Regions from separate parts of the Homo sapiens genome. Here region 2 is linked to region 1. The links come from fine-mapping of genetic effects on gene expression. A gene starts in region 1. The other region holds a variant in brackets. All regions are shown on one strand. Distances are between the middles of the regions. Region 1 holds the start of ZDHHC12 (zDHHC palmitoyltransferase 12). Region 2 overlaps DNM1 (dynamin 1).

Region 1 (14,187 bases):
TGGAAAACAGAGCGTCTTTTTTTGTGGAGGGGATTGCTAGCCTGGCTTCCAGGCTCTGGAGCAGGGCTTGAGCCACCCCTGGCAGGGGGGCTGCAGTGTAGGTAGTTCTGTGGTAGGGAGGGGTGCGTTTGGTGGGTTAAAGGGCTGCAGGCTGGGGACAGGTGGCAGGGGACTGAGCTGGAGTACCTGTTTCCTATGTGTTCTCTTCACATCCCTGTGCCCACTGAGGACACAGCTGGCAACCAGACCAACAGGGTGCCTGCCTAAGATGGCTCAGCCTGATGGGGGAGACAGATGGCAAATAGAAGATTACAACTCTGTGCCACCATCAGGGAGAAGGCAGCGGAGGAGGTGCCTCCTGCCAGTGGATGGGAGTGGGCAGGCGGATCAGGGAAGCTTGGAGTCCGCTGGGCCACAGTGCTTTGGGGAGAGGGGGAGGAGCCAGCACGATGTCCCCATGTGTCTGGGAGGCTTCTTACAAGAGGACAGAGTGGAGCCAAACCCAGGGAAAAGAAGGAGGTTGCCCAGGCCTGGCCCGAGGGGCTGAGGAAAAGTGCATCCTCAGCAGAGGGTCCCGCCAGGGTGGACAGAGAAGCAGCCCCATGTGGCCCTGGCAGCGTGAGGAACAAGGGTAGAGTGGGAGGGGACCAGGAAGTCGCTGGTGCCAAATTGTGAGGTGCCCAGACTCTAGCATGGCCCAGGGCCGTCCTGGCTGACACCTGTGGTCCCCGCACGTCTATCAACAGTGCCTTGTCATCCTTAAGAGCTGCCTGGTTGGAATAAGAAATGATATGGTGGGCTGGGTGCGGTGGCTCACGCCTGTAATCCCAGCACTTTGGGAGGCCGAGGTGGATCACGAGGTCAGGCGATCAAGACCATCCTGGCTAACATGGTGAAACCCCGTCTCTACTAAAAGATACAAAAAAATTAGCTGCGCTAGGCGGCCGGCACCGGTAGTCCTAGCTACTTGAGAGGCTGAGACAGGAGAATGGTGTGAACCCAGGAGGCAGAGCTTGCAGTGAGCACAGATGGTGCCACTGCACTCCAGCCTGGGTGACAGAGCGAGACTCCGTCTCAAAAAACAAAAAAGAAATGATACGGTCACACCCTTTATAGGCCACCGTGAGTGTGTGGATTTTACCCTTTATGTGAGGTTTTAAGCCTGGGCATCAGGACCCAATTAAGCATTTCTGGAAGCTGAGCACTGACTCCTCCCACAGCCTCTGTGAAGCCGAGGTCCCCTCTTCTCCACCCCCTGCAGGGCCTGGACCTGGCCTCTCTCTCCCCTGGCTGACAGCCCCCTGCCACTGGCCACCCACAGGACCTGGGCAGGAAGGGCATCAAGTGGTTTGCCTCAGAACCCTGGTGGGTCGTCTGTGCCTCGGAGGGAATGAGGGCAGTGCCTGCCAGCAGCAGCCAACACTGCTGAACCTTATTCTGTGTCCCAGGCCCCGGGCTAAGTGCTTCATGTACCTTCCGCTTCCTCAGAACCCTGGCAATAATCCATTTCACAGACAAGGACACTGAGGCTCAGAGAGGTGAAGTGACTTTACTTTTTATTTTTTTCAGACAAGGTCTCACTGTTGCCCAGGCTGAGTGCAATGGCACGATCACAGCTCATTGCAGCTTCGACCTCCTGGGCTCAAGCAATCCTTGCACCTCAGCCTCCCAAGTAGCTGGGACAACAAACGTGCACCTCCATGCACATCTAATTTTTGTTTTTTTGTAGAAATGGGGTCTCACTGTGTTGCCCAGGTTGGTCTCAAATTCCTGGGCTCAAGCAATCCTCCCACTCCAGCCACCCACAGTGTTGAGATTACAGGCATATGCCACCATACCTGGCCTGACATGACTTATTACCTCAAGGTTGCCACAGTAAAGGAGGGAAAACAAGATCCTCAGATGTGCCAGGTGCTCCTCCTCTAGCTCGCTGGCCTGATACTTGCCATTTCCTGTGTCAGGAACACTCTAGTTCCTGCTCATCCCATCACAGCACCTACTTATCTCATGGGGCTGAAATTGCCTTGTCTCGTCTCCCCCACTGGACTGTGAGCAACAAGCCACATCAAGGCTCTGCTGTAGCCCAGCACAAAACCTGGCACATGGAGGGCTCTCCTTTTAAAAACCTGTGGCCAGGCTGGGTACAGTGGCTCAGCCTGTAATCTCAGGACTTTGGGAGGCCAGGGTGGGCGGATCCCTTGAGGTCAGGAGTTTGAGACCATCCTGGCCAAAATGGTGAAACCCCGTCTCTACTAAAAATACAAAAATTAGCTGGGTGTGGTGGTGCACACCTGTAATCCCAGCTACTCGGGAGGCTGCGGCAGGAGAATCACTTGAACCCAGGAGGCAGAGGTCACAGTGAGCTGAGATCGTGCTATTGCAGTCCAGCCCAGGCAACAGAGCAAGACTCCATTGCAAAAACAAACGAACAAAAACAAAAACCTAGGTGACGGGATGAGCTGTGCAGCAAACCACAGTGGCACATGTTTACCTATGTAACAAACCTGCACATCCTACACATGTACCCCTGAACTTAAAATAAAAGTTGGAGAGAAAAAAAAAAAGAAACTAATTTTGCCGCTCAGCACCTTCAAACATGACCTACCTCTCCAAAATAGACTGATGTCTAAACCATAAAGCCATTTTACTGAGTCTCCCTAAGAAATGTGACCTCTGGCCGGGCACAGTGGTTCACACTTGTAATCCCAGCACTTTGGGAGGCCGAGGCAGGCGGATCACAAGGTAAGGAGTTCAAGGCCACCCTGGCCAACATGGTGAAATCCTGTGTCTACTAAGAATTTTTAAAAAATTAGCCAGGCGTGGTGGCACGTGCCTGTAATCCCAGCTACTTTGGAAGCTAAGGCAGGAGAATTGCTTGAACCCAGGAGGCGGAGGTTGCAGTGAGCCTCAGATCACACCAGGGAAACAGTACGAAACTCCCTCTCAAAAAAAAAAAAAAGTGCTGGGCACAGTGGCTCACGCCTGTAATCCCAGCACTCTGGGAGGCCAAGGCGGGCGGGTCATCTGAGGTCGGGAGTTTGAGCCCAGCCTGACCAACATGGAGAATCCCCATCTCTACTAAAAATACAAAATTCGCTGGGCATGGTGGCGGGTGCCTGTAATCCCAGCTACTTGGGAGGCTGAGGCAGGAGAATCGCTTGAACCTGGGAGGCAGAGGTTGCAGTGAGCCGAGAGCCCGCCATTGCATTCCAGCCTGGGCAACAAGAGCGAAACTCCGTCTCAAAAAAAAAAAAAAAAGTGTGGTGGGATGGGAACTTACAATTGTGATCCTTCCTCTGTCCATTTGAGATGAGTGTGTATCTCCTACAACTCAGAAGTGTCTTTTTCAAGGACCTGAAGGCCATTCTATTGAAATGTAATATCAGGAAGGACAGAGCCTCTGTCTCCCAGTCTCTGCAGGAGAACAGAGTCCTAACTTTCACCATTGCCAGCGAGCACGCGGAGCTGCCTAATCACATTTACCATGACCAACCCTTTGGAATTTTTCATTTCCCTTATTCTGCTGAAGCCCTCACCGTTTCCCTCCACTCCCTCATTCTCCCTTTAAGCCAGACATGGTGGAGCACGCCTGCAGTCCCAGCTACTCTGGAGGCTGAGGGGGAAGATTGCCTCAGGTCAGGAGTTTGAGGCCATAGCGAGACCCCATCTCAAGAAAGCAGAAAACCAAAACCACAAAAAACATCAGTCACCTCTGCACAAACAGAAGTTTCAGTTGGTTCACACTGGGCTCTCCGCCCTATCAGTAGTATATTGTTAATTAAAATCTGGCCTTACTATTTGAACTAGTGTTGGGATGTTTGATACTAGCACAGTGCCTAACCCACGGAAGCTTCAGAATTATGTGCTGAGTGGATAATGTGCTGGATGTCCCCACTGAGCACATCAGATCCTGCACCCAGTGCAGTAGTCAAGACTTAGCTGCAAATGACAGACACCCAACTCAAACATCTACTCAGGCTAGTCAAAGGTGGGAATTGGGGCCAGGCATGGTGGCTCACACCTGTAATCCCAGCACTTTGAGAGGCTGAGTTAGGCAGATCACTTGAAGTCAGGAATTCGAGACCAGCCTGGACAACATAGTGAAACCCTGTCTCTACTAAAAATACAAAAATTAGCTGGGCGTGGTGGCATGTGCCTGTAACCCCAGCTACTTGGGAGGCTGAGGCAGGAGAATCACTTGAACTTGGGAGGTGGAGGTTGCAGTGAGCCCAGATCGCGCCACTGCACTCCAGCCTAGGCAACAGAGTGAGGCTCTGTCTCAAAAAAAAAAAAAAAAAAAAGGTGGGCATTCATTGACTCTTGCAACCAGGGGATGCAGAGTCAGTATCAGCTTCAGGGACAGCCGGATCTAGAGGGCTCAGACAATGTTGTTCAGACCATCTCTTGCTCCCTCCTTTAGTGCTGCTTATCCATCTCTATGTGTCTTTATAAGTTGGTCTCATTTTCTCCAGCCACAGACAGGGTAAGCCCTCTCCGCCCAGCGTAAAGACGGCTCCCAGTTGCCTTATATCCCATTCCTTAGGCTTGAGATCCAAAAGAATGCTCCTTCCTCTCAGCATCTAGACAGTAATCTCATGGAAGGCCTGTGATTGGTTCTGCAGAGTCGAAAGCCCACAGCCTGCCGCTCGCCATCCTATGGGGTGAGGGGCAGTCCCTCCAATCACATGGGATGGGAAGTCGATTCCCCAACCAAAAAAAGGATGTTGAGCTGAGAAAAACAACAGATGTCAGAGGAGTATCCTGGAGGAGCTGGGATGGGGCCAATCAGAGGGAGGCGGAGGAGGATGCTGGTATCAGTGGGAGGTGCTGTGGAAAGGCGGGGCTGAGTGGAGAAGGCCCTGGGGACACAGGGAAGGAGGACAGCCTGCAGCCTCCGGTGAGGAAAGTCCGCCTGTAGGTGGTGGCTCACAGCAGGAGAGGCAAGACAGTCCCGTGCTAGACAAGGCGCTTCCATTATTTAATCCTCCCAAACACCTTAGGAGGAAGACACTATTGTAATCCCCCTTATAGAGACAGAAAACAGCTCAGAGGGGCTCAGTAACTCGCCCAGGGTCACACAGGTAGGAAGGGGCAGTGCTGGGATTTCTGACTCCCGCCTAAGTTGGATCACCCATAGTCAGAATGTGCACCACGTACCTCCACTTTTCTCTCGTCCGTTTGCAATATCTGAGAATACATAGCAAGGAGGTAAAGCTGTCACCACAGAGCAACCTTGGGCGAGCCTTGGCCCTCTCGAGACTTTAGTCATCACATCTTTGAAATGGGTACAATTTTGCCTCCCGGACTCACAGCAAGCCGCTGGATCTTCGAAGCGCCCAGGGAGCTACGCGCATGCGCGAGGCTGCGAGGGCGGGCACAGGGGAACGCGGGGGAGGGCACAGCGGAGCGCGGGGGAGGTGCGCGCGCGCTCCGGCGCTTTCAAAAGTTACCTGGCGGGTGGGGCTGGAGTTGAGGGAGTTACCAGCTGCGCGCGCGCCGGCCCCACCCTCAGCCTCTTCAGGCACCTGTTGGCTTGAGGGTCCATTCGGCCGCAGATGCCATCCAATAGGCAGCCTCCCTGACCCAGTCCGGCCCCGCCCAACGCCTAGATCCACCAGTCCCCGGGCGGCGGCGTTCCCCTCCCTCGGAGGGCCCGCCCCTCTGGGCGCTTCTTCCGGGTGGGGCCCCGGGCCGAGGCGATGGCGCCCTGGGCGCTCCTCAGCCCTGGGGTCCTGGTGCGGACCGGGCACACCGTGCTGACCTGGGGAATCACGCTGGTGCTCTTCCTGCACGATACCGGTGAGCCGGACCCCGAGCGACCCCGGACCCACCCGATCCCGCGTACTTCCCCAGACGTTCTGGTCACACTGGGTCTCCCGCCTAATCCCTGGAGATCCTGGGATTGGCCCGATCTCCACCAGCTCCTGAAGCCCTCTCCCCATCTATCATTCCAAGAGCCACCTGCTCTCTGTCTGATACCCCGTTGATCCCTAATTAATCCCAGCATCTTCCTGATCATTGCCAAATGCCCTGTCCATCCCAGGACCCAGCCGGTGCCCACCAGATCCAAGGACCGACTTGAGCCCCATGTCCCCTGATCCTGGGACCCACATGATCCTTCCCAGGAACTGACCCCAAATCTTCCTATCCATACGATTAGGAGGCTCAACTAGATGCAAAGATTGGCATTCTGCCCACACCCACACCCCCCACACCCCCATGGCCACTAGCTGCCCAAGTCCAGGCAAACCCTCAGGCCAGAGAACACTCCATGGGGTGCGGCCTGTCTCCCATCTTCCCACAGATTCACCCACCCACCCACCTCCATTTCCCTCATTCCTCTTAGTAGCCCCCTACCCAGCGCCTCACCTGCCACAGGCAGCCTCCCCCACTGTCCCCCACAGCAGACCCCAGCCCTCCTTCCATGGCGGTCCAGCCTCAGTTTCTGGACTGGGGCCCCTTCTGGCTTTCCTCCCAAGACAGACCTCCTCCACCACCTTCACCCTTTAGCCTAAAAACTTGCTCAGGTCTCCGTATCAGAAAACCCCCCTCAAAACCCACCCTTTCTTCTCTGCTCCCCCTTACAACCAAGGGACACAGGATTTGTCTACACTCTGCTGTCTGGTGGTCTCATGCCCCCTCACTCCTTGCCCTGCACCCTACCTCCCCAAAATCCTGTCACCTCCCTGGGCTGAAGCCTGCTGGACCCTTCCGTATGCCCCTCTGCAGCATCTGAGCCTGCCAGCTGCACCCTTCCCACTGTATCTCTCTCAGGCATTTCAGACCTAACCAGTCTCTCACCATTGCAGAGCCAGAGACGCTGGACCCCTCTTCCCTCTCTCCCACATCCAGTCAGGTCTGGCTCCCTTGACCCAGCAGCCCCCTGTCCATTCCTTCCTCCCTCACTTCCTGCCAGGCCTTTGTAGCGACTCTCTTCTTCCTCCTGGCCAGATTCTCTGCCCCCAGGCTTCCCCTGATCCATTTCTTTAGCAATGAGGTTTTCCAAAACAGATCTGGCTCTATAACCTTCCATGGTTCCCTCTGACCCTCCAGATAAAAGTGCAGATGAACTGCTGGCCACACACAGCCACTCATGGAACCAACATCTCCAGGCCTTTGCTCAGCCAGGAACACACTTCCCCACCTCCAACTGCACCCCAACCCCACCCACTCCTGTTCTACCCGGCCCAGCCTCACTGTGCTCTCCGGCCTCTCCAGAGCTGCGGCAATGGGAGGAGCAGGGGGAGCTGCTCCTGCCCCTCACCTTCCTGCTCCTGGTGCTGGGCTCCCTGCTGCTCTACCTCGCTGTGTCACTCATGGACCCTGGCTACGTGAATGTGCAGCCCCAGCCTCAGGTAACCAGGGGCCCCTACTCTCACCAACAGGGACCTAACAACCAGCACCAGTCTCCATGCCAGGCTCTGTGCTGCAGGCTCTTGTGGGAGCAGTTCAGTGACTCCTCTTGCCACCCCTAGAGCCCCATCTACAGTAGTGAGGAAACTGCTGGGCCCCAGAGAAGGAAGAGACTTGCAAACATACACAGCCGCCCTCAGTCCAGGGTGCTCCGCCATACCCCACACCTCCATTCTGCATGGGATGGGTCCCAAACTCCATACCCAGAGCTAAGCCGGCCCCTAGGGGAGCTGCCCGCCAATGCCATCTGTCTCCCAAGGGGACCCTGTCTTACACCCCACCCCTCATTCCAGGAGGAGCTCAAAGAGGAGCAGACAGCCATGGTTCCTCCAGCCATCCCTCTTCGGCGCTGCAGATACTGCCTGGTGCTGGTGAGTGATGCACGGACACCCGTGGGAGAGGTTGGGCCAAAGCTGAGACTCCTCGACCTCCTCCTGCCCCACTGCCTGGGCCTCGCCCCTCCTCCAAGAAGGCCTTCCAGAATCAGGCCCTGATTCCTTCCCTCAGTGGTGGGCCCACAGCAGGGCTGGCACTGAGCCTCCACTCTCCTCCATGCCCACAGCAGCCCCTGAGGGCTCGGCACTGCCGTGAGTGCCGCCGTTGCGTCCGCCGCTACGACCACCACTGCCCCTGGATGGAGAACTGTGTGGGAGAGCGCAACCACCCACTCTTTGTGGTCTACCTGGCGCTGCAGCTGGTGGTGCTTCTGTGGGGCCTGTACCTGGCATGGTGGGTGCTGCTGCCCGGGTGTAGAGGGAGGGTGGGATGAATGCTCCCACAGGGGTGGACAGAGCCAGGACTCCCAGGGACCCGGCATGGGGAGGGAAGGGCTCCCCTGCCCTCCCCCAGCACCAGGCCCCTGTCCCCTGCACCGCAGGTCAGGCCTCCGGTTCTTCCAGCCCTGGGGTCAGTGGTTGCGGTCCAGCGGGCTCCTGTTCGCCACCTTCCTGCTGCTGTCCCTCTTCTCGTTGGTGGCCAGCCTGCTCCTCGTCTCGCACCTCTACCTGGTGGCCAGCAACACCACCACCTGGGAATTCATCTCCTCACACCGCATCGCCTATCTCCGCCAGCGCCCCAGCAACCCCTTCGACCGAGGCCTGACCCGCAACCTGGCCCACTTCTTCTGTGGATGGCCCTCAGGGTCCTGGGAGACCCTCTGGGCTGAGGAGGAGGAAGAGGGCAGCAGCCCAGCTGTTTAGGGTTGCTGGAGGCCGGGCTACCGTCTTGTGCCTGAAAACCACGGGGCCTGTCCCCAGCTGGGGTGAGCGCTCAGAGGGCCTGGGGCCCTCACTCCTGCCCACGCCTCCCAGACCCCAGAACGGAGCTTCAAGTCAGACAGATCCCTGCCTTGGTGGGCAGTTCTGCCTTCCAAGGAAGAAGGGGAAGAAAAGGACCTGTGGGTGGCTCAGGCCCAAGCAGACCCCGGGCTCCACCCCAGCCCCGCCCAGGCTGCTGCCAGTGCACACTTTTACAAATTTAATATAAAGCAAGTCCAGTCTTAAAAAGACAAACCATATCACTCCTTGCTGCGGCACCCTTTCTGGGCCAGGTCTCGCTGGGAGGTAGAAGAGGGCGAGCTGGAGGGGGAAGGGACACACTTTGCCCAGTGACACTGAGCAAAGCCCACAACAGTGGCCCCATGGCTGCCACTTTGAATCCCAAGGGCTCAGAAGTACCCAGCAAGGCCTGGACCTCCAGGCAGGGCGCACGGGTGAACGAGCAGAGGCTCTAACAGTCTGTGGGGGAAGGGGACAGAGGTGCCAGGAGATGCCCTCAGGGTTCCAGGAATCGCTCTGACACAAAGTCGAAGTCCCGGAAGGCGGCCTGTTGGCGGGCAGTGAGGAGGCTGTGGGGTGCAGGTGGGGTCAGGGCAGGCGGCAGCCCTGTGAACTCGCCCTCAAAGTAGCGCAGGTCCGCAGGGCCACACAGGGTAGGCACGAAGGGGGGCTGGATGGTGCGGGCGAGCAGGGCTTGCCAGTTGGTGGTCTGAGGGCAAAGGAGAGGCGCCTGAGACGGCAGGAACAGCAGCTCCAGGAGTCACTCCATGCCACCTACCCTGCCAGGCACAGGGGACCACCGCCACCCCAGCCGCTCACCCTGAAGAATGGCTGGACCTTGATCTCCTCGGCATCCTGCTCACCTGCCCCGAGGCGCTTCTCCGGGCACTTCTGGAGGAGCTGGGCAATAGGACAGGCGCTCACTTAGGGCATTCAGCCCCAGGCACTGCCATCATCCACAGGCCCCAAGCACGCTGGCCCAGAGCGCTCTAAGGATGGGTGGCAGGGGGTCTGCTGTCCCACGGCAGAGGGCACATGGGCCTTGAGCGGCCATCCAGCCCAGCCCCAGACCCCGCAGTGCTTACCTTCTGAATGAACTCAAGCCCTTGCACCGACAGAAAGCCGGGGTAGGGGGCGTCCATGTTGACGATGCAGTCAAACACCTCTTCCTCTGTGTCCCCTGGGAACGGGCACTGTGGAGATGGGGGCTCAGCAGGATGCACGGGCCACCCCACCCCCACCCAGAGGCCCAGGAAACAGGCTCCAGCACTCACCTCACCCACCAGCATCTCGTAGAGCAGCACACCCAGCCCCCACCAGTCCACAGCCCGTGTGTATGCCTCCTGGGTCAGCACCTCGGGAGCCAGGAACTCCGGGGTGCCACAGAAGGTGCTAGTCCGGTCCCCGAAGCCGATCCCTGCAAACCAACAGGCACACCAATAGCTGCTTGGTGTGGCCTATTCACAATAACTTCAATAGCCAAGCCTTATGATGCCAGGGAGCTGAGCCTGTGCCAAGCCCTGCCCTGTACCCAAGGAAGTGGGAATGGTTATGACGCCATTTGACTGCATGCAGAGCCAAGCTCACAGGCTAAGGTCACAGAAGGCAGAACTCGGCTGGGTGCGGTGGCTCACACCTGTAATCCCAGCACTTTGGGAGGCCGAGGTGGGCAGATCATGAGGTCAGGAGTTCGAGACCAGCCTGGCCAACATGGTGAAACCCCGTCTCTACTAAAAATACAAAAAATAAGCTGGGTGTGGTGGCATGTGCCTGTAATCGCAGGTACTCGGGAGGCTGAGGCAGGAGAATCTCTTGAACCTTGGAGGCAGAGGTTGCAGTGAGCCGAGATTGCGCCATTGCACTCCAGCCTGGGCAACAGGGCAAGACTCCATCTCAAAAAAAAAAGAAGCCGGGCGCAGTGGCTCACGCCTGTAATCCCAGCACTTTGGGCGGCCAAGGTGGGTGGATCATGAGGTCAGGAGATCGAGACCATCCTCGCTAACACAGTGAAACCCCGTCTCTACTAAAAAAATACAAAAATTAGCCAGGTGTGGTGGTGCTCGCTTGTAGTCCCAGCTACTTGGGCTGCTGAGGCAAGAGAATCGCTTGAACCCAGTAGGTGGAGGCTGCAGTGAGCCGAGACTGCACCACTGCATTGCATCCTGGGCGGCACAGCAAGACTCCGTCTCAAAAAAAAAAACAAACCAAAAAAAAAACAGAAGGCAGAACTCAGTCTCCTCTCCCATCCCTGACCACAGGCTCTCCCTTGGGCCAGGTGCAGGCTGGGGCTACGAGCCTCTAGGACTAGGAAGAAAGGGCCAGTGTGCCCAGCTGTCCCCTGGAATGAGGTCTGGGGTGGTGGAACCAGGGCATCCGCAGGTGAGGAGATTTCCTGGGACATGCCATGTGCCCATCATCCTATTGGCCAGGGTGGGTAAACAAGGCTGGAGATATGGATCCCAATGGGCGGCCCCCACCTTCCTTGCAGAGTCCAAAGTCTGCGATCTTCAGGAATCCCTGGGCATCCAGCAGAAGGTTATCCAACTTCAGGTCCCTGAGGGCAAGGGTGCAGATCAAAGGGACTGAGTGGGGCTTAGACCCAGGGAACAGTAACGGCCCCTGGAGCAGCCCAGGCAGGCGGAGGCAGCATCTGTCCTTACCCACTCCACCCCCACCCCCACCCCTACCCCCGTGCATCCCTGGGACAAAAGTCACCTGTAAATGATCTTCTTCTCGTGTAAGAACTGCAGCCCCAGGACAACACAAGCCACGTAGAAGCTGCAGGGGTGGTTATGGGAGAACTCAGGCCCAAGACACACACCAGGGAGGCAGGGCAGGGAGGCACCAGGATGGCCATAGCGGGGGGATCCCGGATGTCCCGGCCAGAGTCAGAGATGAGTGAGACTGGGACAAGCATCATGCTGAGGGTGGGGGTGCTCCAATAGTCCCAAGGTCGCCCCAAGGTTGCGTGCATTTCCAGCTCACCCTTCATGGGCCCTTAAATGGTGCCAGGGACCAAGTGTTGGTCCCTGCAGTGGATATTCATCATGCCTATTTTTTTTTTTTTTGAGACGGAGTCTCACTCTGTCACCCAGGCTGCAGTGCAGCGGTGCGATCTCGGCTCACTGCAACCTCCACCTCCTGGGTTCAAGCAATTCTCCTGCCTCAGCCTCCCAAGTAGCTGAGACTACAGGCACGCGCCACCACGCCCAGCTAATTTTTTTTTTTTTTTTTTTTTTTTAGTTTTTATAGAGATAGGGTTTCACCATGTTGGCCAGGATGGTCTTGATCTCTTGACCTCATGATCCACACGCCTCAGCCTCCCAAAGTGTGGGGATTACAGGCATGAACCAACGTGCCCGGCCTTTTTTTTTTTTTTTTTAGATGGAGTCTCACTCTGTCGCCAGACCGAAGTGGCGGGATCTCGGCTCACTCCAACCTCCGCCTCCTGGGTTCAAGCGATTCTCCTGCCTTAGCCTCTCAAGTAGCTAGGATTACAGGCGTGTGCCACCATGCCTAGCTAATTTTTGTATTTTTAGTAGAGACAAGATTTTACCATGTTGGCCAGGTCACGAACTCCTGACCTCAGGTGATCCACCCGCCTCAGCCTCCAAAGTGCTGGGATTACAGGTGCCCGGCCAATCATGCCTATTTTTCAAATAAAGATCTGAGACTCACCAGGTGTGGTGGCTCACGCCTGTAATCTCAGCACTTTGGAAGGCCGAGGTGGGCGGATCACTTGAGGTCAGGAGTTAGAGACCAACCTGACCAACATGGAGAAACCTCGTCTCTACTAAAAATACAAAATTAGACAGGAGTGGTGGTGCATGCCTGTAATCCCAGCTACTCAGGAGGCTGAGGCAGGAGAATGGCTTGAACCAGGGAGGCGGAGGTTGTGGTGAGCCGAGATCATGCCATTGCACTCCAGCCTGGGCAATAAGAGCCAGACTCTGTCTCACAAAAAAAAAAAAAAAAAAAAAAAAAAGAAACCTAATGCACAGCTTCATAAGCTGATACCCAGGATCACAAATGCTGTCAGTTGGTGCCAGGATGTAAACCAAGGCCTCTGACTCCTGCTCCCCTGCTGTTGGGCACTTGGAGAAAGCAGTATGTAGAGAGTGGGTGTAGGGAACCAGGCAAAGTTTGCTGGAAGAGGCAGGCAGGAGGGATGGAACCCACCGGGCCTGGGGCTCGGGGAAGACATCCTCGTGGATCTGCATCATGAGGTCACCACCAGGCACAAACTCAGTCACAAAGCAGGCATGGCTGGAGGTCTGGAAGCAGGCAAGGAGGGAGAGCAGGAAAGGGTGCCCTGTGCAGCCCACAGCCTCCAGGATCCGCTTCTCGCAGTACAGGCTACAGGAGAGAGCAAGAGTATTAGAGGGAAGGAAAACTTTCCCTGGGCTGTGCCCTGTGCCCTGCACAACACCCCTGGCTCACTGGGCCCTCAGCCAAAGTGCCAGGCAAGTAGACTGATGGTTTCTTTTCATTTTTTTTTTTTTTTTGAGACACAGTCTTGCTCTGTCGCCTGGGCTGGAGTGCTGTGGTGTGATCTCAGCTCATTGCAACCTCTGCCTCCCGGGTTCAAGAGATTTTTGTGCCTCAGCCTCCCGAGTAGCTGGGATTATAGGAGTGCGCCACCACGCCCAGCTAATTTTTGTATTTTTAGTAGACGCAGGGTTTCGCTGTGTTGCCCAGGCTGGTCTCGAACTCTTGGCCTCAAGTTATCCACCTGCTTCGGCCTTCCAGAATGCTGGGATTACAAGTGTGAGCCAGTGCGCCCAGCCTTTTTTTTTTTTTTTTTTGAGACAGGGTCTCACTTTCTTGCCCAGGCTGGAGTGATGTGGTGCGATCTCGGCTCACTGCAGCCTCCGCCACTGAGGTTCAAGTGATCCTCCCACCACAGCTTCACGAGTAGCTGGGTGTGCACCACCACGCCCAGCTAATTTTTGTATTTTTTGTAGAGGCGGGTTTCACCATGTTGTCCAGGCTGGCCTCGAACTCCTGGGCTCAAGCAATCCTCCCACCTTGGCCTCCTGAAGTGCTGGGATTACAGGCATGAGCCACTGTGCCCAGCCTCCCCCTCCTTTTTTTTTTTTTAATTAGTTTTTTTAGATGAGGTCTCATTCTGTTGCCCAGGCTGGAGATCTCTGCTAACTATAACCTCTACCTCCTGGGCTTAAGCAATCCTCTCACCTCACCCTCCCAAGTAGCTGGGACTAAAGGCACATGCCACCATGTCTGGCTATTTTTTATAGATGGGGTTTCACCATGTGATTCAGATTGGTCTTGAACTCCTGGACTCAAGTGATCCGCCTGCCTTGGCCTCCCAAAGTGCTGGGGTTACATGCATGAGTTACCACGCCTGGCCATAGAGTGATGGTTTCTATATGTCAGGGGCTCACAAGGAGCTCTGAACGTGCACAGCCACCAATGCCCCCATTTTACAGTAGAGCAAACTGACAGAGAGAAGAGGGGACCTGCCCAAGGAAACACA
Region 2 (11,832 bases), 480 kb after region 1:
CCGTCCTGGCGTCATCCCGCCCACCCCTCTCTGCCCCCAACGCCCCCCTGGCCCATGCAGCCACATAAAGCCCTCTTTATGCCAGGCGGGTGGCCGGGAGCCCCAGAGGGCGGCTGGGGGAGGAGAGGAGGAAGTTGCACACACGGCCAGGGAACATCTGGAACCGTTCGAGAGAGGCCCCGCCACCACCCGCCCTGTGCTTCGGGGTTGGACACTAGGTAGGAGCGGCCTCCTCCCCCCACCCCTCCCTTCCTGCCGGCCGGCCCCCTCCTCAGGCCCCTCCTTCTCAGCCCCAGCTCCCGCTCACCCCTGCCACGTCAAAGGAGGCAGAAGGGGAGTTGGGAGCAGAGAGGGGACCACGGGCTGGCTGGTCTGGGGCTAGGGGGACACAGGCTGGGGTTGGGGGGTTCTCGGATCTCCAGGGGATGGGGCTGAAGCGCCCACCGGATGGACAGACACTGCTGCCTGGATGGACCAGAGGACACCTCCACTCCGTCTACCCAGTGTTTAGACTATCTGTTCAGGACTCCCAAATTGTACAGTAGTCTGCACATTGGTTAGGCTGGGCTGGGTTAGACCCTCGGCACCGCCGCCACTGGAGAGCTGGACCGACCCCTGCCTGCCATCCCAGAACCGGAGCCTGGAGCCAGGGGGTTGGGGCACAGGGCGGGCTGGGAGGAGGCACAGATGGATGGGGGTGCCACCCTGTGTGGGACTGGTTGGGGGTAGCGGTGATGGGGGAAGGGTGGCCGAGGAAGACTGAGAGGATGGGGGGGTCAATGGGGACTGGGGATGTGGGCAGCCGCCGGTCTGCCCAAAGAGCCTCCCTCACCCCAAAACCTGAGGGCTGGTGGTTGAGTAGAGAAGTACAGACCACTCTCCCACCAGCCTGGACCACCTCCACATCCCCAGTGGTCCTAGTGCAAGAATCCACTCACATTCAACACACACGCACCTTGACACTCACAGCCCCAGAACTCACACACATGAGCACCCCCACACTTTCAATCTCACACCCATGTCCCACACGGACACACACAAGTGCATGCACACACACCCATACACACCCTCACAACTGGAACACTCCCCCCATCCTCACATCCCAAAGACATACACAGATTCTCAAACACCCCATACTCACACCCTCCCTCCTAGAGCCCCCTCCCCACACACACCTGCTTTTACACCCCAAGCACAGGCAGGTGCCCAGAGTCACTCCCCAGGCACACAGATTTCACCCCCAGATGCAAATGCAGACCACATATTCCAAACACACCTAGATGCTTATACTCCAATCACACTCCTAAAAAACACCCACACACCAGACCCACAAGCCACACACACACACACACACACACACACAAACACACCCCGCCTCCCAGCACCCACAGCCCACAGCTGACTCCCATCTCCCCACATATGATTCTCAGAGCTGTTTTCGCACACGACTTAACTCAGATGTACACAAAAGCTCCAGAAAGGCCTGCAGGCTCAGGCATGAGATCAGGGGACCCCCTCAGTGGCACGTGCCCCTCCCCCACAGTGTCACCCGGTCTCCGGCCCTCAGCCCCAGGTCACATGGTCTCCCTGGCCCTGAGTAAGGAACCTCAACATGGGAGACCCCAAACCCATGGGGGCATCTAGGGAGCCTGCAGAGAGACCGGCAGGAAGCCACCCCCCACCCGCACCCCATGCCACTGCACACTCCATCCCTTCCAGGGGCCCCCATGGTGGGGGAGGCCAGGGTTGGGGTAATGAGGTCCAGATGGCTTGGCGCCCCCGCCAGTGACGACAGAGGGCCCCTCCCAAGGTGGAGAGTTGGGGCCCCTGCCCAGGACAAACTTGGAGGAGACAGGGACCTGGGAGGGGGCTTGGAGGCCAAAATCACAGGCCCCACCCAGAGCCCCGCTCCCCCGTTGAGGATGCTGTAGCCTCCAACAGCCCCCTCAGGAAGAAGAGGGTCCCTTCCCCCACTCCTTGGCCAGCTGGAGTTCATTACCACAAGCCCACCCCCAGCCCTCCCCATTCTCTCTGGTCACCTCTGGAATCCAGATGTGAAAGCCAAATAGACTCATTCTTAAAGGAGACCAGCAACAGGGGAAGGAGGTGGCAGGGGCTTCTGTGCACCCTAGTGGGCGGGGAGGGGTTTTTTGTGGCACCTCGGCAGGGCCCCCACACTCCTTGCCCCTCAGCCTGAGGGCACCCTGGTCATTTCCCTTGGACTGCAGGGGTCTAGGGGACTGGGGTGCAGGGGTTAACCGGGTGTCTGGCAGCTAGACTTGTGTGTGTCATGGGCCTGTGGGGGCCACAGAGGAGGCGGCACGCCCTGCAGCGGGAAAACAGGAAGGCTGCTGGGCTGCAGGGTCAGGGAGGGGCACCCAAGTCCCCTGCCCACCCTCCCCAGGGCGCTTAGCCCCAGGCTCCTCAGTCCTGCCAAGCTACCTTCTCCTTCCAACCTGGGTGAGAGGGTGCCTCCCCCTGAACCCCCAGGGTCACCTGCCTTGGACCCTTGCATCCCAACTCCACCCGTGGATCCTTTTTTTTTGAGATGGAGTCTCACTCTGTTGCCCAGGCTGGAGTGCAATGGTGCGATCTCGGCTCACTGCAACCTCCGCCTCCCGGGTTCAAGGCATTCTTGTGTCTCAGCCTCCCTAGTAGCTGGGATTACAGGCGCCCGCCAACACACCTGGTTAATTTTTGTATTTTTAGTAGAGATGGGGTTTCACCATTTTGGCCGGGCTGGTCTCGGACTCCTGACCGCAGGTGATCCACCTGCCTCGGCCTCCCAAAGTGCTGGGATTATAGGTGTGAGCCACCACACCCAGCCTGCCCACGGATCTTTGACGAGACATTTTAAAACCCTATTCCATGGTCTAGCCCACTCCAAGCCCATGGGAGGGTCTGAGCCTGACTCTGTCCACCAGCCCAGCCCCTTGATGACCACTGGCCCTTGACTCACCTCATCATCCTTGTACCAGGACAGATTCTCAGCAGTCAGCACAAACCAGTACTCCTTGGAGCCCCCTTTCATGATGCCAATATTATTGATAGTCAGCCAGCCCTTGCGGATGACCTGGAGGGTGATGGGGCAGGAGGTCAGTGGACAGGGCCTGAGCCTCCCCATGGGGGATGGGGTAGGCAAAGAGAGGCATTCGAAACCCCACCCCTCTCCCAGCTCTCTGAGGCCTGGCAGTCAGGGAGGGTGGGGGCCAGACCTGCCTTGGTTTGAACCACAAGTGAACAGAGTGGAAGACAGAGGAAGGCAGAGATCAGCTCAGGATAAAGAGCCTTTGACAGGCAGACCTGGCCGAGTTAAGGGACTGGAGGCCTGGGTAGGGGATGAGCTCCCTGTCACTAAAAGTATGCAAGCAGAGTTTATGGGGCCGATTGGGGAAGCCAACTGCGAGTCTTGGAAGCTTAAGGTCTCATCTGTTCTGAGATGTGTTTCTGACTTTACACATGCTGCTGCCGCCTCTGCCTAGAAAGCACTTTTTCCTTTTTGCCTGGCAAATTCCTACTCAGCCTTTGAGTATCAGCTCAGGATTCACATTCTCAGGCAGCCCCTTCCTGTCCCCCAGTATAAATCAGGATTCCCATAATGATCTTTGATCACTCCCTGAAGTCGACTTCTGTAACAAGGGCTTCGATTTTTAATTAACTTCTCTACGTGCGTGTGTGTGATTATCTGTCGATGCAGCCTCCCCTGCTAAATCATGAACTGTTGGTCACTAGTACATCCCAGCACCTTGCAGAGGGCCTGGCAGATAGTAAGTGATCAATACATATTTGTAGTATGAATAAATAAAAGCTATGATAGTACGGTTCTAAGGGTCTTTGGCTCCAGGTCCCCAGGGGCAAGGGCTGAGCCACAAAGTGCCTAGAGTAACAAGCTAAGGTCCCTTTTCATGGCAGGAAGCAGCTGTCCCCAGGACTGTCCAGAGCCATGGCCACGGTCCAGGGCCTGTGGATTCTACTTCAGGGGTAGGGTCACTGGCCAGGTACTGGTCATGGGTCAGATCGAGAGGATGAGGCAGCTGCTTCTGCTCCCTCCTGGACGCTGACCTCCCCAGCTTCTTCTCTGAGCATCCAGAGAAGACCCAAGGAGGCCTGGGGCTGGCGGCAAAGCCCTCTGGGGCCAGGCTTGCTTCTGGAGCCCTCCTTATGCCTCTCTGGTTCCCTGAGAACCTCGCTGAGAACCCAAGCTGCACAGCCCAGCAGCAGTTGAGCTGAGGGGAGAACACCAGCTGCCTCTCTCACCCCTTCCTGATCAGGCGAGGATCCCCACAGGGTCTTGTCACTGTCTTTGGAATTGAGTCCACTGTGTCCCACGATGTGACCAGCAGATCTTGCCACCTGCTCCCCACCCTAACTTGTAGTCTTTGTCCTCCCCCTTGGCCACACCCAGCCCTGAACTCCTCTCTGCTCATCCTAAGCCCTCTCTGCAGCCCTGCACCAGGGACCTCCTGCTCTCCCAACTCCCACCCTGCATGGAGCTCTCAGGGGCCTTAGCTGGGCCCTACCAGCAGGCCCAGGTCTCCACGTCCTGTCCAGGGGCCAGCACCGTGTAGGCACCAGCTAGTGTTGGCTGAATTGAATTGTCCTGATACTACATTCATTCCTCCCTTCATTCTGTTGAGCACCTACTGCGTGCCAGGCTAGGGGCTTGAGCTGAGGATTTAATGATAAACGGGACAGACTCAGCCCTCCCCTTATGGGGCCTGGGAAGGAAATAGACATTAAGCCAATAATCACATAAACACCTAGAGTCTTACAAAGAAACTACGGCCTCTGGAACCTATGGAAAGAAAAGCTGAGGACCCTCGGGCTCATGTGTACAACTGAGCAAGCGCTTCTGACGAGGGATGTTTCCGCAGACATCTAAGGACAGAGAGCAGGAGGCCAGGTGAGCAGTGACTTCTTGACTTCTCTTGACTTCTCATTCGTCTCTTCATTCAAGTCCGGAGGCGATGGCTGTCAGCTTCTTAAAAATGTGTCTTGCTCACGTGCATCCCTCCATCCAGCAGATGTTTAAGGAGCACCTACTCCGTGCCAGGCCCAGCCTTCTCACCCACCCAGCCCCACACGGTCTAGCTCTGCCTGAAGTAGGTGCTTGGCTCGTGCACACAGATGGACGGGTGGATGCGGCTGGGCCTGCCTCTGGCCTGAGGGCAGGTGTGAAATGCCAGGGGCTGGTGTGTACAAGCAGCTTCAGCCAAAGGGTGCCCTCCTACCCGTTGCAGATCCCCACTGCCGATGGACCCTCCGCCCCCTCACTACACAAGCCGAGAGCCCCAGTCCTGGTACTCACCAGAATCTCATCCTGCAAAGAGGTAACCATAGCAACCACGAGAGGCATCGGGGAGAGAGGAGAGAGGGTTACTGAGGCAGAGTGGGAGGCTTGTGGCTGGCAGCTGACAGGTCCCTGGCCCCCGTGGGACCCTTCCCCTCAGGGGAGGGGGCTCTCAGAGTCTGGTGTCCGTCCGGCACCCTCCATCCCTCGGGCTGGGGTGCTGGGCCCCACTCACCTGGTTCCCTGAAGTCTTCTTCTTGTTCATCTGGTTGCTCCTCTGCTGAGCACTAATGGGAGGGAGGGGAGGAGTCTCAGAACTTCTCAAGAGGCCCAGCTCTACTGCCCACTGCTTAGTGGGCACAGGACCCAGAGGGTTAACCTAGCAGACCTGGGCTCTACACACACACACACACACACACACACACACACACACACACACACACACACGTTACCTTCTCTGCCCAGGGAGCACTCACTTTTTGCCTGGGGGAGCACTCACTTGGCAAAGCCTATGAAGTCCTCATGGTTGGTGTTCATGTAAGCCAGCTCGATATCGATGAGAAGCATGACCTTCAAGGATACATAGGTTGGTGGGCAAGCGCAAAAGACACCACAAAGTTTTAAAATGCAGGGCAAGCTGGGAGAAAAGTACTTGCAGCACATATAGGAGGTTAGTATCCATAATAAATATAGTCCCTACCATCAGTGAAAGACAAAAGCTGAGCGTGGTGGCTCACACCTGTGATCCCAGCACTTTGGGAGGTGGAAGTGGGAGGATTGCTTGAGCCTAGGAGTTCAAGAGCAGCCTGGGCAACATAGGGAGACCTGTCTCTACCAAAAAATACAAAAGGTAGCTAGGCATGGTGGCATGTGCCTGTAGTCCCAGCTACTTGGGAGGCTGAGGAGGGAGGATTGATTGAGCCCAGGAAGTTGAGGCTGCAGTGAGCCAAGATTGCACCACTGCATTCCAGCCTAGAAGACAGAGCAAAACCCTGAGAGAAAAGAAGAGAGGAGAGGAGAGGAGAGGAGAGGATGAAAGAAAGAAAGAAAATCACAAATTGGCCAGGTGCGGTGGCTCACGCCTGTAATCCCAGCACTTTGGGAGGCCGAGGTGGGTGGATCACAAGGTCAGGAGATCGAGACCATCCTGCCTAACACGGTGAAACCCCGTCTCTACTAAAAATACAAAAAATTAGCCGGGCGTGGTGGCGGGCTCCTGTAGTCCCAGCTACTTGGGAGGCTGAGGCAGGAGAATGGTGTGAGCCCAGGAGGCGGAGCTTGCAGTGAGCTGAGATGGCACCACTGCACTCCAGCCTGGATGACAGAGTGAGACTCCACCTCAAAAGAAAAAAAAAAAAAAAGAAAATCACAAATCAAAATAGTCAAGAACATGATGAATAATTCATAGAAGAAATGCATACATCCACTAAGGATGTGTAAAAAATCCTTACTCTCATTAATAAAGAAATGTAAGTTAAAAATGAGGCTTTTAGCCAGGCGCAGTGGCTCATGCCTGTAATCCCAGCACTTTGGGAGGCCGAAGTGGGCGGATCACCTGAGGTCAGGAGTTCGAGACCAGCCTGACCAACATGGAGAAATCCCGTCTCTACTAAAAATACAAAATTAGATGGGCATGGTGGCACATGCCTGTAATCCCAGCTACTTGGGAGGCTGAGGCAGGGGAATCACTTGAACTCAGGAGGTGGAGATTGCAGTGAGCCGAGATTGTGCCATTGCACTCCAGCCTGGGCAACAAGAGCGAAACTCTGTCACAAACAAACAAACAAACAAACAAACAAACAAACAGAGGCTTTTTAAATGATCAGCATGACACAAGTGTTGGGAAATGAGCTCTCTCATATATTGTTGATGGAAGTGTAAATCAGTATCACCTTCTCTGAGGGCAATTTGGCAATATTTAACAACATTAAAATGCACAGGGCAGGGAATGGTGGCTCATGCCTGTAATCCCAGCATTTTGGAAGGCCGAGGCAGGAGGATTGCTTGAACCTAGGAATTCAAAACCAACCTGGGAAACATGGAGAAACCCTGTCTCTACAAAAAATAGAAAAATTAGCCAGGTGTAGTGGTGTACGCCTGTGGTCCCAGCTACTTGGGAAGCTAAG[A/G]TGGGAGGATCGCTTGAGCCCAGGGATGCAGAGGTTGCAGTGAGCCATAATGGCACCACTGCACTCCAGCCTGGGCGTCAGAGCGAGACCCTATCTCAAAACAAACAAACAAACAAACAATGCACATATTCACTTCCAGAATTGTATCTCACAGATACACTCATCAAGTGAGCAAAGATACATGAGCCAGAGTATTCAAAGTAGTACAGTTTGTAATAGAGAAAAATTGGGAGCAAGCCAGTGGCCATCTGAGGGTGAAATAGATTATGACACTCTCTAGACAAGAAAGCACCCTGCAGCTGTTCAAAAGAACAAGGACAGGCCGGGCGGGGTGGCTCACGCCTGTAATCCCAGCACTTTGGGAGGCCGAGGCAGGTAGATCGCTTGAGGTCACAAGTTCACAAGTTCGAGATCAGCCTGGCCAACATGGTGAAACCCTGTCTCTACAAAAATACAAAAATTAGCCGGGCATGGTGGCATGCACCTGTGGTCCCAGCTACTTGGGAGGCTGAGGCAGGAGAATGGCTTGAACCCGGGAGGCAGAGGTTGCAGAGAGCCGAGATTGAGCCACTGCACTCCAGCCTGGGCAACTGAGAGAGACTCCGTCTCAAAAAAAAAAAAAGAACAAGGATAATGTCCAGGTTCCGGCCTGGGAAGACCCTTGCAAACGATTAAATGTGAACATATTTGGAATTCAGTAGTGATGAGAATGACTTTCCAGATGGGACAAAGACTTCCAGGTTCAGACCCAAGCCCCACTGCTTCCTGTGAGCTTGGGGTCTGTCCTCACTTAGCCTCAAAGTCCACAAATGTAGCGTTTCTGCCTCTTAGAACTGGTGAAGACACAGGAGATGAGATACTCAACAGATGTTAGATATTACAATTATCTTCAGAGGAAAAAGGCAAGGCACACAGCAGGCTTGTGGTTTAGGATAAAGATGGAATCTGGATTGTGTGTGTTTGTGTGTGAGTGCACACGCATAAGAAAATGCCTGCAAGGTGACACACTAAACTGGTTTGCTTTTTGGGGTATTACTGAGGCAGAGTCTCACTGTGTTGCCCATGCTGGAATGCAGTGGCATGATCATGGGTCACTGCAGCCTCCACTTCCTGGGCTCAGGCGACCCTCCCACCTCAGCCTCCCATGTAGCTAGGAATTCAGGTGCATGCCGCCTCACCTAGCTAGTTTTTTAAATTTTTTGTAGAGACGGGGTCTTGCCATGTTGCCCTGGCTGGTCTCAAACTCCTGGGCTCATATAATCCTCCCACCTAGGCCTCCCAAAGTGCTGGGGTTACAGGTATAAGCCACTGTGTGGAGCCCCAAACTGTTAGTAATGGTTATTTTTCAGGAAGAACTAGGGGTGGGGAAGAGTGAATGGAGGGCTATCTCCTTGTAATTTAACCACTTCGATACTGATTGAATGTTTTATTGAGTATTTATGATGTTTGTAATTAAAAAGCAATCAATAAGGATTTAAAAATATGACATCAACAACAAAAACATGAATGAATGGAGATGGCAGCATCATGGAGAGATGTGTGAAAACAGGAAATGGGAAATGGGAGCCAGAGGGGGCTACAACAGACATGTAGGGGCATGGCAGACAGGGATCAGAAAGGAGGACTAGCCTCCGAGCTCCGTGAGGGCCACGATGGGCCCTGCTCACCTCTGCTCCGTGCAGCTCAGAGGTAGCGTTCAGTGGCTATGTTTGTGATTGAAGGAAGAAATGAATGAATATTTGATGAACGATGACATAAAAGGTGGGGGTGGCTATGAGGGGTATAATGTGACCCAGAGAAACAGCAAATAGACAAAGAGAGGCCCAAAGAGAGGACCACAAGGATAGACTGCCAGAAAGTGAAGAAAGCCTGACCAGCCTGGGCACGGTGGCTCATGCTCGTAATCTCAGCATTTTGGGAGGCTGAGGCAGATCGCTTGAGCCCAGAAGTTTGAGACCATCCTGGGCACCATAGTGAGACCCCCGTCTCTACAAAAAAATTTTAAAATTAGCCAGGCGTAGTGGCATGTACCTGTAGCCCCAGCTACTCGGGAGGCTAAAGTCGGAGGATCGCTTGAGCCTGGGAGGTCGAGTCTTCAGTGAACCATGATCATGCTACTGCACTCCTGCCTAGCAGGGGCGACAGAGCAGGACTCTGTCTCCAAAAAAAATAAGCATAGAACCAGCCTATGGCCCAGCATTTCCACTTTTAGGTATATACTCAAAAGGGTAGAAAGTGGGGACTCAGATAGGGATTTGTACACTCATCTTCAAAGCAGTGTGATTCACAATGGCCAAAAGGTAGGAAAAACCCACATGAATAAACAAAGTGTGGTCCATCCATACAATGGAATATTATTCAAGCCTTAAAAAGGAAGCAGCTTTTTTTTTTTTTTGAGACGGAGTCTCACTCTGTTGCCCAGGCTGGAGTGCAATGGCATGATCTCAGCTCACTGCAATCTCTGCCTCCCGGGTTCAAGTGGTTCTCCTGCCTCAGCTTCCTGAATAGCTGGGATTACAGGCGCCCACCACCAAGTCCGGCTAAATTTTGTATTTTTAGTAGAGACGGGGTTTCACCATGTTGGCCAGGCTGGTCTCAAACTCCTGACCTCGTGATCCGCCCACCTTGGCCTCCCAAAGTGCTTGGATTACAGGCATGAGCCACCACGCCCGGCCAGGAAGCAGCTTTTGACACATGCTACAATACGGATGGTCCTGGAAGACATTATGCTAAGTGACAGATACTGTATGACTCCACTTACGTGAGGTCCCTAGAAAAGTCAAATTCATAGAGACAGGCCAGGCACGGTGGCTCACACCTGTAATCCCAGTACTTTGGGAGGCCGAGGCGGGTGGATCACTTGAGATCAGGAGTTTGAGAACAGCCTGTTCAACATGGTGAAATCCCATCTCTACCAAAAATATAAAAAATTAGCCGGGTGTGTGGTGCGTGCCTGTAATTCCAGCTACTCGGGAAGCTGAGGCAGGAGAATCGCTTGAACTCCGGAAGCGGAGGTTGCAGTGAACCGATTTCATGCCACTGTACTCCAGCCTGGGCAACAGTGAGGCTCCGTCTTAAAACAAACAAACAACAAATTCATAGAGACAGAAACATGAATGGTGGCTGCCAGCTGCCGGGAGCTGGGGGAGCAGGGAATGGGATGTTAGTGTTTCATGGGGACAGTTTCCGTTTTGCAAGATGAAAAGAGTTCTGTGGGCCAGGCGCGGTGGCTCACGCCTGTAATCCCAGCACTTTGGGAGGCTGAGGTGGGCAGATCACTTGAGGTCAGGAGTTTGAGACCAGCCTGGCCAACGTGGTGAAACCCTGTCTGTACTAAAAATACAAAAATTACCCGGGCATGGTGGCGCACGCCACCTCCCAGTAGCCTCCCAGCTACTCGGGAGGCTGAGGCAAGAGAATCACTTGAACCCAAGAGGCGGAGGTTGCAGTGAGCTGAGAGATCACACCACTGCACTCCAGCCTGGACGATAGAGCAAGACTCTGTCTCAAAAAAACAGTTCTGTGGATGGATGTTGCTGTGCAACAGCGCAAATGTACTTAGTGCCACTGAACTGTGCGCTTAAACATGGCTAAAGTGGTATGTTATGTGTATTTTACTGCAATAAAAAAGAGAGAGAAGCAGAGAGTCAGTATGAGACAGAGGAAGACTGAGACAGAAGAGACAAAACAAGAAGGAAGCAACCCCAGGGCCAGGAGTGGAAGGCGCAGGCGGCCAGGAGTGGAAGGAAGGCGCGGCCAGGCCGGGTGCTGCGGGGCTCACCTGCTCCTTAGTGCGGCCCTCGCGCTCCCGGATGTGGGTGGTCACGATGCGCTCCATCTCCTCCCGTAGCCGCGGGTACTGCTGGAGCTGGGGAAGGGCAGGAGGGCAGAAAGCCACGTACACAGAGGGCACGGGCAGGGAGCACCCACACCCCACGAGTCCAGGGATCCGCGGCGCAGGGTGGGAGGCACACACAGAATGCCCACAACGCGGGGAAGAGAGACCTAGGGTCCCAGGACGCTGATGGCACCAAGCCACGGCCACCCCTTTCCCCCAAGTGTGGGTTCCAAATGGTGATTCAAGGGTCTTCCTGGTTCCGGGCCCTCTTCACTGGCCTACCTGGGCAACTTCAGGGCAGAGGGGTGGTTCCCGTGGGAGAAAGGCCATGGGAATGAGCCTGCCCCGCAGACTGGTTAGGTTAAGGCCTCTGGGGACCGTTAGCTCCCAAGGTGTTCCCTCATACTCAGGGCTACCCTGTGCCTTCCTAAAGGCGTGGAGGGACAGCTAGATGGGGAATCAGGCAGGGGACAGCCTCTGGATTCCTATCCAGGAGGAATCGGGGGAGGACAGGGCCCAAGGTGCCAGTTGGCCTCCTGAGTCAGGCTGGGACAGGCAATGCTCCTTGTCAGAGCTGG

What was found. PIP is the estimated chance that this variant, and not a neighbour inherited with it, causes the effect.
Region 2: its variant is the best candidate, but not a certain one, in a credible set for the expression of ZDHHC12 in T cells (TOPMed, PIP 0.88).

Annotation. Positions count from the first base shown.
Region 1 is chr9:128,715,606-128,729,792 of GRCh38, reverse strand. It overlaps ZDHHC12 (zDHHC palmitoyltransferase 12), which reads left to right and starts at 5,666. Exons shown (of 5, transcript NM_032799.5): 1 at 5,666-5,799; 2 at 7,219-7,355; 3 at 7,707-7,784; 4 at 7,976-8,142; 5 at 8,291-8,920. The coding sequence starts at 5,700. The coding sequence ends at 8,612. It overlaps PKN3 (protein kinase N3), which reads right to left. Exons shown (of 22, transcript NM_013355.5): 16 at 12,870-13,046; 17 at 11,406-11,468; 18 at 11,168-11,244; 19 at 9,965-10,107; 20 at 9,776-9,883; 21 at 9,510-9,590; 22 at 8,877-9,399. The coding sequence ends at 9,187. ZDHHC12-DT (ZDHHC12 divergent transcript) reads right to left here and starts at 5,331. Exons shown (of 2, transcript NR_046240.1): 1 at 5,158-5,331. It overlaps ZER1 (zyg-11 related cell cycle regulator), which reads left to right. Exons shown (of 16, transcript NM_006336.4): 16 at 1-7. RefSeq lists enhancers at 1-225, 226-1,057 and a silencer at 5,298-5,777.
Region 2 is chr9:128,233,473-128,245,304 of GRCh38, reverse strand. DNM1 (dynamin 1) reads right to left here. Exons shown (of 22, transcript NM_004408.4): 11 at 11,198-11,284; 12 at 5,790-5,860; 13 at 5,526-5,577; 14 at 5,309-5,320; 15 at 2,960-3,073. It overlaps MIR199B (microRNA 199b), which reads left to right and starts at 475; the gene lies at 475-584. MIR3154 (microRNA 3154) reads left to right here and starts at 275; the gene lies at 275-358. The variant A/G (reference allele first, on the strand shown) is at 7,417.